Homo sapiens: one gene and its partners. The protein of the gene in region 3 purifies or fractionates together with the protein of the main gene of each other region. This does not show direct contact. Each region holds a gene or a part of one and is shown on either strand. Other genes may lie near its edges.

What was found.
Region 1: the proteins of PPP2R3C (region 3) and MYBL2 purify together in Homo sapiens (affinity purification with mass spectrometry; one large-scale study listed by BioGRID and IntAct). This does not show direct contact.
Region 2: the proteins of PPP2R3C (region 3) and CEP131 purify together in Homo sapiens (affinity purification with mass spectrometry; one large-scale study listed by BioGRID and IntAct). This does not show direct contact.
Region 4: the proteins of PPP2R3C (region 3) and CEP72 purify together in Homo sapiens (affinity purification with mass spectrometry; one large-scale study listed by BioGRID and IntAct). This does not show direct contact.

What each region holds. Positions count from the first base shown.
Region 1 is NC_000020.11:43,701,134-43,705,967, reverse strand, and holds part of MYBL2 (myb-related protein B), read right to left. Parts: intron 3,479-4,834; coding exon 3,065-3,478; intron 750-3,064; coding exon 610-749; intron 1-609. UniProt on the Homo sapiens protein: Transcription factor involved in the regulation of cell survival, proliferation, and differentiation. Transactivates the expression of the CLU gene.
Region 2 is NC_000017.11:81,212,192-81,217,025, forward strand, and holds part of CEP131 (centrosomal protein of 131 kDa), read right to left. Parts: intron 1-4,834. UniProt on the Homo sapiens protein: Component of centriolar satellites contributing to the building of a complex and dynamic network required to regulate cilia/flagellum formation.
Region 3 is NC_000014.9:35,084,972-35,089,315, forward strand, and holds the end of PPP2R3C (serine/threonine-protein phosphatase 2A regulatory subunit B'' subunit gamma), read right to left. Parts: intron 3,040-4,344; coding exon 2,980-3,039; intron 808-2,979; coding exon 619-807; 3' UTR 501-618; downstream 1-500. UniProt on the Homo sapiens protein: May regulate MCM3AP phosphorylation through phosphatase recruitment. May act as a negative regulator of ABCB1 expression and function through the dephosphorylation of ABCB1 by TFPI2/PPP2R3C complex.
Region 4 is NC_000005.10:614,934-619,767, reverse strand, and holds part of CEP72 (centrosomal protein of 72 kDa), read right to left. Parts: intron 1,940-4,834; exon of another isoform or gene 1,919-1,939; intron 779-1,918; coding exon 651-778; intron 1-650. UniProt on the Homo sapiens protein: Involved in the recruitment of key centrosomal proteins to the centrosome.

The DNA of each region.
Region 1 (4,834 bases), on a different chromosome or scaffold from region 3:
AGCATTTTGGGAGGCTGAGGCAGGAGGATCACGAGGTCAGGAGATCGACACCATCCTGGCTAATACGGTGAAATCCTGTCTCTACTAAAAATACAAAAAATTAGCTGAGCGCGGTGGCGGATGCCTGTAGTCCTAGCTACTCGGGAGGCTGAGGCAGGAGAATGGCATGAACCTGGGAGGCGGAGCTTGCAGTGAGCCAAGATCGCGCCATTGCACTCCAGCCTGGGCAACAGAGCAAGACTCCATCTCAAAATAAATAAATAAATAAATAAATAAATAAATAAATAAATAAATATTTTTTTAATTAGCTGAGCATGGTGGCATGCACCTGGAGTCCCAGCTACTCAGGAGGCTGAGGCAGGAGGATCACAAAAAAGGAAACTATCAAATTAAAAAATACAAATGAGGAAAAGCAAAGGTGGAGCCCAAAACTATATCGATAAAAATGATAAATCGTGGTGGCCAGAAAGGAGAGGGCTTTCTTAAAACAGTCTTCAGTGTTATTCCAAGGGTGCCCCCTCCCCACTGTTCCACCAGTGGTCCCAAGGCCCATGGTCTGGTGTTGCTGAGGGAGAGGACGGCGAAGGTTGGGGGCACTGCAGCACTCACGCAGCATGTTTCTGGTGCAGGGGTGTCTTGTCCCGGTGCAGTGGTGTGGTGACCACCACCTTCTGGCTGCACACTGGGGTGGATGTCAGCGAGGGGCTCTCCAGCTCCAATGTGTCCTGTTTGTTCCAGAAGTTCAGAAACTGCCAAAGAAGAGAGAGGGAACAAGACAAAATGATGACCTGCATGAGTATCCCTGAGACCTCAGGGGATCATGGGGAGAGATCCTTGAGCCTCTCCCCCAAAACGTCTGCTCTGATACTGAGGTCCCCTCTTGACCCATCAGACACCCGAGAACAAGGACTGGGACAGATCGATGCCAGGAGCCCACCAAGCAGGTTCACACAGACCTCTGGGCTTCCGTCACCCTAATCCTAGCTTTTGCCATCTCTACTCGAGTGCTGACGACGCAGTTAAGGCACAGGAAGCCAACTGTGGGAGAGTGGCTCCTTCTCAGAAGAAATAAAACTAGCTCTGAACTGACCTGTGAAGGCAAAAGGCATGTGACAGTTGTAGTGTGCTGGTGGCGGTGGGGTTATCATTTAGAGGGCACCTTCTCTTGCCAGTGCTAAGCACTTCACACAAATAATTTCAATTAGTTACCACAAATCCTGAGACATAGGCACTATTACTATCCCCCTTTTACAGATAAGAAAACCAACGCTTAGAGAGGTTTTGAGTCTTGCACTGAGTGCTAGAAGTGAGAATGAAATCTAGATCTAAGCCAACATCCATCCTTTGAAGCACCCCGCTCTCTTCCCTCCCTGCCCTGAAGGTGCTATAATAGAGAGCCATCTGCAACCCTCAGGGTCACCACCCTAAATGGGGTCTCTGGAGTAGAGCGACCACGCTCCATCATCCTGAGCTTCCCAAATAGTAGCTGAGGGACCCGCTGCCTTCCTTCTCCAGCCAGCAGCCCTCACTTGCGGCATGTTACAGGCTGACCTGTGTCTCCCCCAAATTTACATCCTGAAGTCCCAACTCTCAGCACCTCAGAATGGGACTGTATTAATACTTGGAGATAGGGCCTTTAAAGTGGTTAGTTAGGCCAGGCGCGGTGGCTCACGCCTGTAATCCCAGCACTTTGGGAGGCCGAGGCAGGTGGATCACTTGAGGTCAAGAGTTCGAGACCAGTCTGGCCAACCTGGAGAAACCCTGTCTCTACTAAAAATACAAAAAAAATAGCCGGGCATGGTGGCTCATGCCTATAATCTCAGCTGCTCAGGAGCCTGAGGCAGGAAAATTCCTTGAACCTGGAAGGTGGAGATTGCAGTGAGCTGTGATCATGCCACTGCACTCCAGCCTCCAGCCTCCAGCCTGGGCAACAGAGCGACTCTCAAAAAATAAAGTCATTAGAGTGGGCCCTAATCCAATAACGGGTGTCCTTATAACATTATAAAATAAGAGGTTTTACAAGAAAAAATAATAGATTAGGACACAGGTGACCACGTGAAGACACAGGAGCCGCCAGCATCTACAAGCCAAGGAGAGAGGCCTCAGTAGAAACCAACACTGCTGAATTTCTTGTCAAATCCACCGAGCCTGTGGTACTCTGTTAAGCAGCCGGAGCAAACCGACACAGGGTCTCTCTCAAAATGCCACTAGCCATCCTGACCCGTGATGACAGGGTGGCCTCCTGCACCAGGCCACCTCAGGGCCTCGCTCTCTCCCACAGCCTCACAGGAAGAACAAACCTAATGAGAGCCAAAGCCCTAAGTTATACCTAGGCCCACCAAGGCCCTGCGCCACCCCCCACCACTCCACACATCCACTCTGTCCTTCCTTTTCTGTGCCTTTGGTCAAGGTGCTCAAGGAGACCCAGCCCAGACACCTCTCTGCAGGAAGGCCAGGTGCCCCCCATGACCTCTATCTCAGAGAGACCCTGGCACCCATCCCGGCTCCCGAGGCTCTGTGTGTTACTAACAGAGCACCCAGGGGCAACACCCAGAACAGTGAGTTCTCAGTGACTTCGCAATTGCTATCACATGGCACTTCCCACACTCTATTCTGGTTAATTCATTACAAGCCCATCCCCAGCACTGGCTATCCCAGGTCTTCCCAGGACCAGGCAGGGCCAGCCAGTGCTGGAGACAACCCATCATCTTCATCTTTGCTCCCCAGTGCTGGTAAGTCTGCTGTGAAATAGGTTCCATACGTGGACTGAACAAACACGACAGTTCTCTTCCTCTCCTTCATTACCCAGTTACCAGCATCCTCCTTCTCCTCCTGGCAGTCTTCCTGGACTTGCCCAGACTAGATACACATATGCAGCACCATAAGCCTTCTCTTTCATCCTGATTATCACATTTTCTGAGTCTTTTTTAGTTACCTGGTCTTCCTACCAGAGCATAAGCTGCATGAGGGCAGAGCCAGGTCTCGTTTTGCTCACCCTTGCCCCAGCACTGAACACTAGGTGTCTGTACCGACCCAATAAGCAGCCAGAGTGGGGTCCACGCACCTGGGAGGGCGAGAAGGGCAGGGTCTTAACAGGTGTGCTCTTGGGCGTGAGGCTGTTACAGGAATCCAGGAAGGACAGACTGGTGCTATTCTCAGTGACAGGGGACAGAGCCACACGCCTCTTCCTCTGCCGCTTGAGCACAGAGGGCGGTGTGCCAATGCCAGAGCCCCCGACTTCAGTGCTGGGGGAGATGGGGATCAGCTCGCCCCGGCTGCTCCGGCTCAGGTCTGAGATGGTGTGGCCATCCAGGCGGTACTCGGTCACACTGGGCACCAGGGCGGAAGGCTGGCGGGGTGGCAGGACTTGCTGCTGATGTGACGCTTGCAGCTGCACTAGGCTGTTGTTGATACTGTCCTCTGCAGATGGTTCCTCAGGGAGGTCAAATTTACTCAGGTCACACCAAGCATCAGGGTCCTGTCCAGGGAGGGAGGTTAGGAATTGCAATTACTATGCTCTTAATACAAGAGGACTCATTCATTACGGGAAATATTTAAGTGTCAAGTATGATCCCACAGCCCAGGACCAATCATTAATATTTCATGCATTTCCTCAAAGTTTTCTATGACTATACATCTATATTTTCATAGATTCTTCTTTTCTTTAAAGAGACAGGGTTTCACTCTGTTGCCTACGCTGGAGTACAGTAGCACAATCACAGCTCACTGCAGGCTTGAACTCCTGGGTTCAAGTGATCCTCCCGCCTCAGCCTCCCGAGTAGTTGGGACTACAGACATGTACCACCATTCTCGGCTAATTTTTTATTTTTTACTTTTTTTTGAGACAGAGACTTGCTCTGTCGCCCAGGCTGTAGTGCAGTGGTGCAACCTCGGCTCACTGCAACCTCCGCCTTCCGGGTTCAAGCAATTCTCCTGCCTCAGCCTCCTGAGTAGCTGGGACTACAGGCGTGTGCCACCACACCCATATTGGCCAGGCTGGTCTCGAACTCCTGACCTCAGGTGATCTGACCACCTTGGCCTCCAAAAGTGCTGGGATGACAGGTGTGAGCCACTGCACCCGGCTTCAGCTAATTTTTTAAAATATTTTTTATAGAGACTGTGTTTCACTGTGTTACCCAGGCTGGTCTCAAATTCCTGGGCTCACGTGATCCTCTCACCTCAGCCTCCCAAAGTGCTGGGATTACAGACATGAACCACAGTACCCAGCCTGCAGATATTTTTATAGAACGAAATATAGAGCAGTGAATGGGATGTCACTCATCATTGATGCCTCCTTGGGGCAGCTCACAAAAGTTATTTCCAATCCCCACAATTCTGCTAGGGAAGCATTACTTTCCCTTTCATACCAAGGAAGCTGAGCTAAGGGGATTCGGTCTTCCCAAAGTTACTCACTCAGCTTCTAGAACAAGCCCGTGAGTCACTACAGGTTTTCCCTCCTTTACCCAATAAATCACAACACAAACCAAAAGGCTTCTGGACACAGAGGCTTCCACTTTGGTCTTTGGGTTCTGGCTTCTGAGTGGACCCAGACACTAAAGCCGAGTTCTGGTTCCCTGGGGTAGTTCACTCCTAAGGGTGGAGGCCAGCTGGGGGGCAGGACCGACCTCAGGCCCACACCCCAATTCAGGGAGGACCCAGCACCGACAGTGTCTGGTAGACCAGAAGTACATCCTACAAGGACCACTGAAGTGGACGGAGCAGAGGAGGGAAGATGGGATTTCCACACACGCAGTAACTCCCCCAACAGGCGCTGAAGGTCATTGTGGAAAGAGCCTGAGCTCTGAGCCGGACAGCAAGGTTTAACTCCTGTTCC
Region 2 (4,834 bases), on a different chromosome or scaffold from region 3:
ACGCACCTGTAATCCCAGCTACTCAGGAGGCTGAGGCAGGAGAATCACTTGAACTGGGAGGCGGAGGTTGCAGTGAGCCGAGATTGCGCTACTGCACTCCAGCCTGGGCGACAGAGCAAGATTCCCTCTCAAAAAAAAAAAAAAAGAAAAGAAAAGAAAAGATGTTCAGCCTCACTCACAGATGTTAAGTTAGAAATAAAATCAGAGGTGGAGGGCGAGGTGCTGTCCAAGCAGCCCTGGACAGGAGTGGGGCCCGTGCAGAGGGACTGTTCCGAGTAGCCCCGGGCAGGAGTGGGGCCTGTCAGCCTAAAGGCAGAGGGGCTCTTCCTAATAGCCCTGGGCAGGAGTGGGGCCTGTGCAGAGGGGCTGTCCCGAGGAGCCGTGGGCAGGAGTGGGGCCCGTGCAGAGGGGCTGTCCCAGAGCATAGCACAGCATTGGTGGTGTTCTTCCCATGGGGTTTGGGTTATCCACTGTGACACCACCTTACACACCTTACACACACACAGGAGCTAAACCAGGGACAGCAGACGATGGGGCCGCATCCTCACTGCAGGAGGGGAGGTTACAATCAGCAAGCGTCGGGGGGGCGAGAGGTGCCACTAGCGGCAGAGACATCAGTAGGACGCACAACACCAATGGTTACTAGGTAGGTTACTATCTATAGACAGTGTGTATATTACACACCAACTGGCGTACACTACATACTTCCTTGCTCTGTTGGCTGAGAAGACCAGAAACAGCCCAGTAGGGACAAGCACACCCAGCTCCCAGACCTTGGTCTCTGAGACCACTCTCCAAGAAAAAGAACCGGGGCTTCTTGAAGAAATGGCTGATTCTAGGACTGGAGGAGGAAATAGACAAGATGAGGCTGGAGCAGTTTATAGGGCCAGAAATAAGGACGTGCTCAGAAGACAAAGTGATGGGCAATGACACAGGGACCCAGGAGCCACCTGAAAGTTCCCAGTGGCCAAAGCTGTGACAATGAGAGCAACAAAATAAGCAAACTAGCATTGAATTATAACTTGAAGTGTAAAATAAATATCCACGAGTCCATTATAATAAATGATTGAAAAAATTAATAAGTGGGGCCAGGTGCAGTGGCTCATGCCTGTAATCCCAGCACTTTGGGAAGCCAAGGCAGGAGGATCACTTGAGGTCAGGAGTTCGAGACCAGCCTGGCCAACATGGTGAAACCCCATCTCTACTGAAATACAAAAATTAGTCAGGTGTGGTGGCACACGCCTGTAGTTCTAGCTACTCAGGAGGCTGAGATAGGAAAATCGCTTGAACCCGGGAGGCGGAGATTGCAGTGAGCCAAGATTATGCCACTGCACTGCAGCCTGGGCGACAGCGTGAGACACTGTCTCAAAAAAAAAAAAAAATTATAAATGAGGGTGAACAGACAAATCTCCTGTGTAGAAGAATTCCAAATAACTTCTATAGATGCTCTTCTCTAAAGGAGGGGGAGCAAAACTCCCCACCCCTTCCATGTGGGCTGAACAAAGCGACTTCCTTCCAGAGAGCACAGGGGATGGGCGACCTCACAGTGGAGAAGCCTGACCCTCCACCTTGGCCAGGGGACCAAGGCCAGCAGCATCACCAGTGAGAGGTCACATGGACAGTGTGGACCCCAGACAGGATGGGGTGAGAAGAGTACTTTACCTCTGTGGCCTTCCTCCTAGAACCCATCCACCACCCAGTCTGATCACGAGAAAAATATCAGGCAAGGGCCAACAGGGGGCCATTCTGTAAAATCCCTGACCAGCTCTCCCCAAAACTCGAAGGTCATCAAAAACAAGGAGAGTCTGAGAAACTCACAGCCCAAACAAGCCTGAGACCCACAGCCCAAAAATCATGTGGGATCCTGGGACAGAAAAGAAAAACTGCAAAAATACAAATCAAGTGTGGACTTTAGTCAGTGATTTACCAATAATGACTTGTTAATTGTACACGTCCCATCATAATGTAAGATATTCAAATAGCAGAGACTGGGTGCGGTACAGGGGAACACCCTGCACTTTCCAATTTTTCTATAAATTTAAAACTATACTAACATAAAAGGTTTATTTTTAAAAATCGTACAGTCACGCCGGAGGCTCACGCCTGTAAGCCCAGCACTTTGGGAGGCCAAGGCGGGCGGATTCACTTGAGGTCAGTAGTTTGAGACCAGCCTGGCCAACATGGTGAAATCCTGTCTCTACTAAAAATACAAAACTTAGCCCGGCATGGTGGCAGGCGCCTGTAATCCCAGCTACTCGGGAGGCTGAGGCAGGAGAATCACTTGAACCCAGGAGACAGAGATTGCGGTGAGGTGAAATCACACCATTGCACTCCAGCCTAGGTGACAGGAGTGAAACTTCATCTCAAAAAAGAAAAAGAAAAAAATAAAATAAAAAGTAAAAAGTAAACTAAAAGGTAGTACAGTCAGATATCTTTTGTTACATATGGATCCTGTAAAGGCCAAAACTGTGCTGCACGTGTGCCAACCAGAGCACGAGGGAGCAGGCCCCGTGGCACCCTGTGATGCGAGTGTGACTTAGGGCAATGATCTTTACGGACAGCAACTTGGCAATGCCTATCAAAAAAAAAAATTTTTTTTGAGACGGAATCTCGCTCTGTCGCCCAGGGTGGAGTGCAGTGGCGCGATCTCGGCTCACTGCAAGTTCCGCCTCCTGGGTTCACGCCATTCTCCTGCCTCAGCCTCCCGAGTAGCCGCGACTACAGGTGCCTGCCACCACGCCCGGCTAATTTTTTTTTTTGTATTTTTAGTAGAGATGGGGTTTCACCGTGTTAGCCAGGATGGTCTCAATCTCCTGGCCTCGTGATCTGCTTGCCTCAACCTCCCAAAGTGCTGGGATTACAGGCATGAGCCACCGCGCCTGGCCAAAAATTTACAATTTAGTTTTAATTTTAATTTTAAAAGATAGAGTCTCACTCTGTTGCCCAGGCTGGAGAGCAGTGGCATGATCATAGCTCACTGCAGCCTCAAACTTTCTGGGTTCAAGCCATCCTCCTGCCCCAGCCTCCCATGTAGCTGGGACTACAGGCATGCACCACCACACTCGGCTAATTTTTTAATTTTTTTGTAGAGACAGGGGTCTCACTATGTTGCCCAGGCTGGTCTCAAACTCCTGGCCTCAAGTGATCCTCCCACCGCAGCCACGCAAAGTGCTGGGATTACAGATATTGGCCACCACTCCCGGCCCCCTTTCAAATTTTTTTATTTATTTAATTTTTTTTGAAATGGAGTCTCGCTGTCACCCAGGCTAGAGTGTGGTGGTGCGATCTTGGCTCACTGCAACCTCCAGCTTCCGGGTTAAATCAGTTCTCCTGCCTTAGCTTCCTGTGTAGCTGGCATTACAGGTGCCTGCCACCACGTCCAGCTATTTTTTCTATTTTTAGTAGAGACGAGGTTTCACCGTGTTGGCCAGGCTGGTCTCGAACTCCTGACCTCAAGCAATCTGCCCACCTCGGCGTCCCAAAGTGCTGGGATTACAGGCACGGGCCACCGCACCTGGCCCCCCTTTCAAAATTTTAAATGGACTTATGCTCTGACCCAGTAGTTATCCTTTAGGATTTATTCTACAGGCGTATTTACATGTATGCAAAATGGCAAAGACACAGGGTATTTGCTGTGCCACTCTTGGTACTATGATAAGGAAAATCCAGAGGAGCACTGGGTGAAGTTCTGGTGCATCATCTGATGAACTATTGTCAGCTGCTACAAAACAATGTAAGGAAAGCGGGAGCAGGGTCAGGTGCAGCGGCCCACACCCGTAATCCCAGCACTTTGGGAGGCCGAGGTGGGAGGATCGCTTCAGCCCAGGAGTTAAGGACCAGCAACCTAGTGAGACCCCTGTCCCTACAAAAAAATTAAAAATTAGTAGGCTGGGTGTGGTGGCTCACACCTGTAATCCCAGCACTTCGGGAGGCTGAGGCAGGAGGATCACCTGAGGTCAAGAGTTCAAGACCAGCCTGACCAACATGGCGAAACCCCGTCGCTACTAAAAATACAAAATTAGCCGGGCATGGTGGTGCATGCCTGTAATCCCAGCTTCTTGGGAGGCAGAGGCAGGAGAATCCCTTGAACCCGGGAGGCAGAGGCTGCAGTGAGCCGAGATCTCACAAATGCACTCCAGCCTGGGCAAAAAGAGCAAAAGTCTGTCTCAAAAGAAAAAAAAAATTAAAAATTAGCTGGGCAGGGTGGTGAGCACCTGTAATCCATGCTACTCAGGATGCTGAGGTAAGAGGATCACTTGTGTCCGGGAGGTGGAGGCTGCAGTAAGCTGTGGTTTCTCCACTGCACTCCAGCCTGGGCAACAGAGCAAGACCCCGTCTTAAAAAGAAAAAGAAAAGAGAATGCAGGAGCCCCACGCAGCTGACGGATACGGCACTTGTTCCAACACATCTCCAGCATCACTGATGCCTGTGTGCCCAGAGTAAGTGTGGGTGCAGGAGAAACAGAACAGTGGCCGCCTAGGAGAGGCCCGCAAGGTCGGGCAGGACAGGCTCACTGCTCAATGAGCCCCCTTTTCCCAAATGGTGGGTGTGAATGGCCTATTCAAAACACATGGTAGGAATTTTGAAATCATCCCCCAAAATGGCACCAGTCATTGCATCAGGGCCATGGGATTATGGGTGCCCTTCATCCTGTCTCCATTTTCCTGGGGTCAGTTTCGCAGCCTCCAAGAGGAAGATAAGGGATGTCAGGGGAGGGATGAAGGGGCTGCCACTCACTGACGGACACCACGGTGGAAAGGCACCACTCATGCTCAGATGGTAAATCAAGTCATGGACTAAAAACCCTAAACTCCACCTGCAAGAAGGAGGCAAC
Region 3 (4,344 bases):
GAGGTCAGGAGTTTGAGACCAGCCTGGCCAACATGGTGAAACCCTGTCTCTGCTAAAATACAAAAATTAGCCAGGTGTGTTGGCAGGCGCCTATAATCCCAGCTACTCAGGAGGCCGAGGCAGGAGAATCACTTGACCCCCCCTAAAAAAAAATCCTAATCCTAACCCAGAAATAAAATGGCTCTACTCATGAATGGGAAAGTTTGTCATCTTTGAGATTTTATATATATAGACACACACACACACACATGTTGTGTGTATATATATATGCACTGTCAGTCAAATATTCACATTCTAAATGACTGTCAGAAATATTCCATGGAAACTTCATCTCTGAAGATTATACAGATTTAAACTGAACATCATCTACCTACAGCAAATCACACTTCCCATCTTTGAACTAAAAGGAACCAGAACTTACCCCACCTCCTAACAAGCAATATTTGGTCCTATTGCTTCTAAACTATTGCAACCAAAATTCCAGTAACCAAAACATTTGCTGTGTTCTCTAGGCATATCAAGTGTTTTATTTAGACCATTTCTGAGGATTTTGCTTTAAAGGCTTTACATGCAGCATTCAAGTATCTCATAATATAAGACAGTCTAGTCTTTCAGAGATCATGTATCATCAAGGTCTGCAGAGTTTTCACTGTCATTTGCAACAAGAGCCTCTCTGTTCTCGTAAGTCCAGAAGCCATTCAAATCGATTAGAATGGTGGTTACTGTGTCTCCTTGATTACTGTTGATTAAATCCTGAAGAGAGATTTTCAAAGGATCCTTTGGTTTTACCATGTCAAAGATTTCATCCTGCAAGAGAAAAAAAAATACAATGAAATTTGATCCACTTAATTTCTATCACACATAGTGATCCAAAATTCAGGGCTGTTTGCATCCACTGAAGTACAGAGGAATAAAATTGAGGGCTGCCACTTGGGCTTATGTTAATTTTTTGTTCTACTTTTTTTCTTTTCCATTTAACAGGCAGTTTCCTTTTCTCTACCTACAACCACAAAATTTTATTGGATAACTCCTTAGCTATGTGATAGCTATCCTTCGTTTTATAGATGAAGAAACCAAGGCTCAGTGCCTAATCTAGCTACATAGGTAATTAGTGGCAGAACTATCTAATGCAGTGTTCAGGGACTGCACGTTAACTAGTTTCTTATATATTTTTCTGTTGCCTTCTAATTGGTGAAACAAAGTTTTGTCTGTAGTTTTTGTTTTTGTTGTTTTGTTTTGTTTTTGAGATGGAGTCTCACTCTGTCATCCAGGCTGGAGTGCAGTAGTGCGATCTTGGCTTACTGCAACCTCCGCCTCCTGGGTTCAAGCGATTCTTCTGCCTCAGCCTCCCGAGTAGGTGGGACTACAGGTGCACGCCACCACACCCAGCTAATTTTTGTATTTTTAGTAGAGATGGGGGTTTCACCATATTGGCCAGGCTGGTCTCAAACTCCTGATGTTAAGTAATCTGCCTGCTTTGGCCTCCCAAATTGCTGGAATTATAGGTGTGAGCCACTGCGCCCAGCCTTTTTTTTTTTTTTTTGAGACAGAGTTTCACCCTTGTTGCCCAGGCTGGAGTGCAATGGTGTGATCTCGGCTCACCGCAACCTCTGCCTCCTGGGTTCAAGCGATTCTCCTGCCTCAGCCTTCCAAGTAGCTGGGATTACAGGCGTGTGCCACCACATCTGGCCAATTTTTGTATTTTCAGTAGAGACGGGGTTTCTCCATATTGGTCAGGCTGGTCTTGAACTCCCGACCTCAGGTGATCCGCCTGCCTTGGCCTCCCAAAGTGCTGGGATTACAGGCGTGAGCCACCGTGCCCAGCCCCTTCTTTTTTTGTGTGTGTGAGATGGAGTGTCCCTCTGTCCCAGGCTGGAGTGCAGTAGTGCGATCTTGGCTCGCTGCAAACTTTGCCTCCCAGGTTCAAGCCATTCTCCTGTCTTGACCTCCCAAATAGCTGGGATTACAGCCGTGTACCACCACACCCGGCTAACAAGGGTTTGGTTTAATTTTTTTTTGCTAACCGTTCAACTCAATTAAACATCTAAATGTTTCAGAGATAGTGACAAAGCTTCATTTCCAATGTTGATGTCAACATTTTGTTAGGATGGGAGAGGGGAGTTTTCTCTGGATATGCATTAGACATCCAAAAAGAAGCTAAATTCTGCTAAAACTTACTGGAACATATAGAAGACCTCCTTCTATATTATGAAGTGTACAACAGATATTTACAGGGAATTAGTACATGTTTTCTAATCTTTTTGTAGTAAAATAACTACAAAATTTGTAGTAAAATAAAATTTGTAGCAAAATTACTAAAAGTGAACAGGCTGTTTGAGGTAGCATACTAAAACAGTTTCCAAGGTAAAAAATCAGTTTACAGTTGAACAGACTGCCGTAGGATATAGACTGTACTGACTGTCTTAATTTTCTTTTTTTTCTTTTGAGATGGAGTTTCACTCTTGTTGTCCAGGCTGGAGTGCAGTGGCACAATCTCAGCTCACTGCAACCTCCACCTCCTGGGCTCCAACGATTCTCCTGCCTCAGCCTCCCGAGTAGCCGGGATTACATGCATGCGCCACCATGCCCAGCTAATTTTTGTATTTTTAGTAGAGACGGGGTTTCACCATGTTGACCAGGCTGGTCTTGAACTCCTGACCTCGGATGATCCGCCCGCCTCAGCCTCCCAACGTGCTGGGATTACAAGCATGAGCCACTGAGCCCGGCCCCCTGACTGTCTTAATTAAAATGAATGAATGCTTCCAATGAAAACATAATGATGACAATACTAAAATTATAAACTACATAAATAGTCCAAATGTGGTCTCAGTTCGTAATGATTTAAATATCAGTTCAGAACAAAAAGCAAACACTTGATTCAAATAGTACTTCATTAGTTGCTTTCATATAAAATTTCATGTAATACAAATGACTATCTCATAATTATCTGGTAATACGTAAATTAAAGGAAAAGATAACCTTGACATCTTGAAATGAAACAGGATCTTGTCCATGGATTTTCATTAGTTCCTGTATGGCCTGTATTTAATAGAAATAAATCTGTAAATAAAAAATGAAATACACAACATCCCTCTTTTGCCCTACAACCCCTTTCTACTTATACTTCCTTTCCTATCAGGCCACAAACCTCATCATTCTCTCTCTTGCCAATCTTCTTAGCTTTCTTGACCTTATTCCACATCAGTGAGCAAAACCTAAATTCTCGATTAGTGTATTGACCTTTTTAGACCTATATCTTAACTATTGAGAACTTCAGGAAAAAAAATAAAAAGATTACGGATTGCTGCTTCTACATAGGAATGTTCTCCAACCTCAAACAGGCCCTCAGCATGGCCTCACAATTATTCTGTTTGATCTGCTCCTCTCATTTTCCATGAATGTTATTCCTGCCTTCACTATTCTCTTAAGATCCCCAATCTACTGTCTCCCTTCCTACCCTACACTTTGCTTTCTACGTAATACAAGAAATGGAGGTAGACCTCCCAAAACTCTTCCTTTTCATAAACTTTAACAAAAAAATGAAGAAACTGCTGTCATCCAGTAGGAATACAAAATACTTCAGGTGAGCATTATTCACTGGAAATGTGAAGTTTCAAATTCTTGGTGAACAGTCAACTTTGTTCCCGATGCCTACTCTGTTACCACTAATAATCAGAGTATCCATAAAGGAATCCCTTTGAAGTAGATAAGAATCTGAGTACATGCTCTGTTAATATAGTAATAGATGGTATGATCTAGAGTGAATCATCCAGACCCAGCTTTATCATTAGGATAGTGATGTCCAAACGCTCTGTGAACAGCCCAGGATTATAGGGCTCAGCATTGGACACTTTTTACCTTATCCCATATAACCAAGCCTAAATAAGCTTTGACAAAATGCCTATATGAAATATTTTTAAAGTAGTTTTAAAACAATTTAATATTCTAAGAGTAGAAAATACTGTAAAGAAATCTTTATGAAAAAGAGCAGTGTTTAATTTCAAATACATTTATTTTCTTAAGACTGGATTTTTACCTAATAGGTTTGTCTAAAGTAGGGGCATTCCTATGATGGGTTGGTATTTATTTTCTCAGATGAGCCGCTGATATAAGCCCATATAGCATTCAGTTTTTTTAATTTTTATTTTTAGAGATAGGGTCTTACTCTGTCATTCAGGCCGTAGTGCAGTGGCAAATCATGGATCACTGCAGCCTTGACCTCCCGGACTCTAGTGATCTTCCCACCTTAGCCTCTCAAGTAGCTGGGACTGCAGGCATGTGCCACCACACCCAGCTAATTTTTAATTTTTTTGTAGAGATGGAGTCTCCCTATGTTGCCCAGGC
Region 4 (4,834 bases), on a different chromosome or scaffold from region 3:
CCGCCCTACAGGGTGAGAACCATCAGCCCCCCCTTCACAGATGAGAAAGCTGAGGCCTGGGAACGGGGAAAGATGAGGCAGCACTGGGTGTAGCCTGGGCTAGGTCCGCATCTGACTTGGAGCAGACTCCCGAGCTGGTGTCAGACGTGGCCTCCATAATGCTCAGGCACCAGGCTCAGGGCAGGCGCATCCCACGGTTCTGTCCGGGCCAATCAGGCCATGCAGACGCAGCCTCCATAATGCTCAGGCATCGGGCTCAGGGCAGGCGCATCCCACGGTTCTGTCAGGGCCAATCAGGCCATGGTAGTTGTGCACAGCTCCCCTCACCACCACCTAGGCATCTCTCTCCAGGGTGACCCTGCCAGGAGCCCAGGAGGCAGCCCCAGGCCCACTGCACTGCCACTCAGTAAGTCTCTGGGGTCTCATTTCATTTCCTTTAAAGATATAATCATCGTCATCAGAGGGCGACAACACAACGTAACGTGATGTGTATGAAATGTAGCCCACGGTAAACACAAAAATACGCAACACAAAGTGTACCGTATACAGATGTAAGCAGAGGGTTACAAAACAGACTCCGTTTCTGCTGTGAATGGACTTTCCACTGATGTTGATAGCAATAAATTTTAAGAAAGAGACCTAAAACTTACCTCCAGACTAACCAAGGAGTTGCGCGAGAGATCCAAAGATTTCAGACCTGTTAAACTCATCAGAGAATGTCCCAGGTGGGTGATCTTCTCTTGGTAAGTTCCAGGAATAGACAATGACTGAAGCTCAGCTAAGAATAGAAAAATTGTAAGATTTTAATCTTTTATTTTGAAAACAATTATAATAACGGTCAAGTTCTTGGTGTTGGATATGGAGTAGAAACTGACACAGATTCTTGGTTTAATTCAACTTTACTCAGGCTCCTGAATCTTCTCCTCGGCCATCTGTGCCCTTCCTTGTAAAGTCCAGTTTAGTGCGGCCAAAACCCCCACCCTCAGTATCTGCTCAGGTTCCTCATCCCCAGATCCCATAGGTGGTGTCTGCTCACCCTGGCCTCTCTTTCGCAATAATCCTGTTCAGTTGGTTTAGCCCAAATCCCCTTACTCCTCATGTGTCCTCTCAGTCATTTTCCATCCACTGCCCCCACCCTGACCCTAGGCTATAAACTCCCCCCGGCCCCTGCTGTACTTGGAGTTGAGCTCCATCTCTCTCCCCCACTGCAAAATCCCAGCGCAGTGGCCCCAGGCCCACCTCAATGGTTCTGAATAAAGCCTTCCTCACTGTGCCTGACAAGGGTCATTCAAAACATTTCTTCCTCTAACAGTATATGTAAAAAGATTGAAAGACAAACTTTAACACATGTGTCCTATTGTGGAATAAATCCCTTTATTTTCCCTCTTACACATTTCTGTATTTTCAGCTTTTCTCAGAGAGATATGTATCCTCGTAATCTGAAAGAGGCACCTAGAACTCAGTGCAACTCCTTTGGAGTTGGAATATCAGCACTGACGAGCAAGGAACGTACCTGAAGTTTCGGCTTATGTTTATCTCTACAATACCTCCAAGCCCACACGCTTCTTCCCACCTTTACTGCCTCTCCCTCCAAAACCGTCTCTCCCCAGGAACACCCCTCTACTTCATCTCCCGCCTCCACTTCTGGCTGCTCAATTCTGTCACCCCTTGCAGCCATCACCATCTGAAACCCACTCGTCGGGTAACCTGTCTGCTGTCCTCCTGTTACAACTGTGGTCGGGCTGTGCAAGCTCCACGCACCCCATAAGCAGTCACTACATCAACATTAATTACAAGATGAAAGTTTCCGTAATCAAAAAGGCAGTTTAGATCCGAATACATCAATACTTTCCTGGGAACATTTATGTTTTAGAATATGTTTTGGTTTTTTTGTTTTTGTTTTCAGATGGAGTCTTACTCTGTTGCCCATGCTGGAGTACCGTGGTGCGATCTCGGCTCACTGCAACCTCCACCTCCTAGGTTCAAGTGATTCTCCCGCCTCAGTCTCCTGAGTAGCTGGGATTACAGGGACACGCCACCACATCCGGCTAAAACCCCACGTTTCCCTGTTTCCTCAGGTAGCCCTCAGGCATCGTCTCAGGTGCAGCTAAACAGCAGGATGCTGCCTGGTTTTGCCCCACTTGGAGGCACACAGACAAGCAGTTCATTGTCCCCCACACCCTGCCACCGGGACAGGGTCAGGAGGGGACAAGGTGCAGTGACCTTTGGCTCATGTTACTGAAAGAAAAGGGTTTCCGTGACAGTCTTGTGGTTTCCTGACCATGTTGGCCAGGCTGGTCTCGAACTCCTGACCTCAGGTGATCCATCCACCTCGGCCTCCCAAGACTACAGGCATGAGCCACCACACCCAACCAGAATATGTTCTGATTAAGTTTAAAATTTGGTTTGAGCTCTTCCAGTTCCAGGCAACATGGAGAGGACACATTTCAACCTGCTCCTCCCGCATATTAGACCCACTGCCCTGGAGGAAAATATACGGAACAAGCATTGGGGGACTGAAAGGAACAGAAGCCAACCAGCCAGGGGCCTCGGCACTCGAGAGAGAACCCAGCGCTGAGTCCCTGGCTTGACTCTGGGGTTTTGTTTATGCTTATTTACTACACATCCCACTCTGGGTGCCACAGAAGTCGGCAGCCCAGAAACACAAAAAGACCAAAAACCGTAAGCCTGCTCTCGATGGCCAAAGGACCAGGAGGGGCCTGGCAGGACAGACTCTCTGTACATCATCAGCCCTCCTGCAACCACACACACTGTTCACATCATCAGCCCTCCTGCAAGCAAACCCCCACCCACACACACAACAACACATACACACACGCACACACCCCTCGTCCACTTGGCACCAGGAGGGGCCTTGCAGGACAGACTCTCTTCACATCATCAGCCCTCCTGCAAGCAAACCCCCACTCGCGCGCACACACACACACACATACACACACACACACACACACCCCTCGTCCACCTGGCCTTGCGCAGCAGCCAGCACCGGGGTGTGAGAATGGATCCTGACTGCTGTCCCGGCCTGGCTAGAACGAGGTGGTGCCCTTCACTCTCCCAGCCAGTAGGGTCTGCCAGAGGCCGTGGGTGAGGCAGGAGCTCCATGACTGTCCCGGCAACAAGGTGGCACCCAGCAGGCTCGAGTGAGGAGTCTTCTCAAGTAAGGGGATTTAAACAGGAAGCAGAGTCTCATGACATCATACCCAGCATGTCCACAATATGATAAAAAATGACCAAGAACCAGAAAAATGGCAATTTGAATGAGAAAACACAGTCAATCAACAGATACCACCAAGAGAGAACACAGAACTTAGGTCTAACAAGGATTTTAAAGTGACTGTCATAAAAAATACTTCAATGAGCAATTACAAACACCTGAGACAAAGGAAAAACTAGTCTTAGCAAAGAAACAGGAGATATAAAGAAGAAACAAATAGAAATTTCAAAGAAAAATACAATAACAAAAAATCACAAGAGCAGTTTAATAGCAAAATGGAGATGACAGATGAAAACTGTAAAACCGTAGAGAAAAACTAAGAGAATCTGTCACAAGCAGACCTGCCCTAAGACAACTGCTGAAAAAATTTTTTCAAATATAAAGGAAAAACGAAAGAAACCTAGAGCATCGTGGAATGAAGAAAAAATAACAGAACAGATAAACATGCAGATAAATATGTTTCCTCCTGAGTTACTGAAAAGGCTAGGTATTTAAAAAAAATCATAATATTAATACGGTTCTCAAGGTATGCAGAGGAAATACTTAAGACAACTAAATTGTAAAGGGGAGAGGATAGAGACCTAAATGGTGATAAAGTTTCTATATTTCACTTAGAAGTAGTAAAATACCTGTACAAGTAAACTGTGTTGAATTACATAAATACATTGTAATTTGTATAGCCACCACTATGAAAACCATACAAGGAGATATACACCAAAACATAACAGATAAATCAAAATGAGATACTAAAAATATTCGAGTAAGTCACAGCAGGCAGGAAAAGGGAAACAGAAGAAAAAACACAGGAAACAATCAAAAAACAATAAAATGGCACACTTAAGTTCTAATATTTAACAATTAGATTAAATGTAAATGGCCTAAAACACTACTACAAGACAGAGATTAGCAGAGTGAATAAAAATAATGAACCAGGAAACTAATTTCAAATATAAAGATACAGGTAGGTTAAAAGTTCAAAGCAATGGATAGGAAAAGATACGCCATGCAAAAACCAATCAAAAGAAGCTACCGTAACAACAGTAATATCAAATAAGACAGATGTCTCAACAAAGAAAATTACCAGGAAAAAAGAGGAACAAGGCCCAGGCACCGTGGCTCACACTTGTAATCCCAGCACTTTGGGAGCCCAGCAGAGATCACCTGAGGTCAGGAGTTCGAGACTAGCCTGGCCAACATGGTGAAACCCCGTCTCTACTAAAAATACAAAAATTAGGCAGGCGTGATGGCAGGCGCCTGTAATCCCAGCTACTCGGGAAGCTGAAGCAGAGGAATCATGTGAACCCGGGAGGCAGAGGTTGCAGTGACCCAAGATCGTGCCACTGCACTCCAGCCTGGGGGACAAGAAGGAAACTCTGTCTCAAAAAAAAAAAAAAAAAAGAGGAAGACTACATATACTAAAAGGGTCAGTCCACTAAGAAGGTATAAAAATCCTAGCTATGTAATTCAACAAACAGAGCTTCAAAACATACAAAGTGAAAAAAAAAACAGACAAATCCACAATTACAGTTAAGGGTTCCAGACCCCTCTCTCAGTCATTAATAGAGTCACTAGACAGAAAATCAGCAAGGATACAGAAGA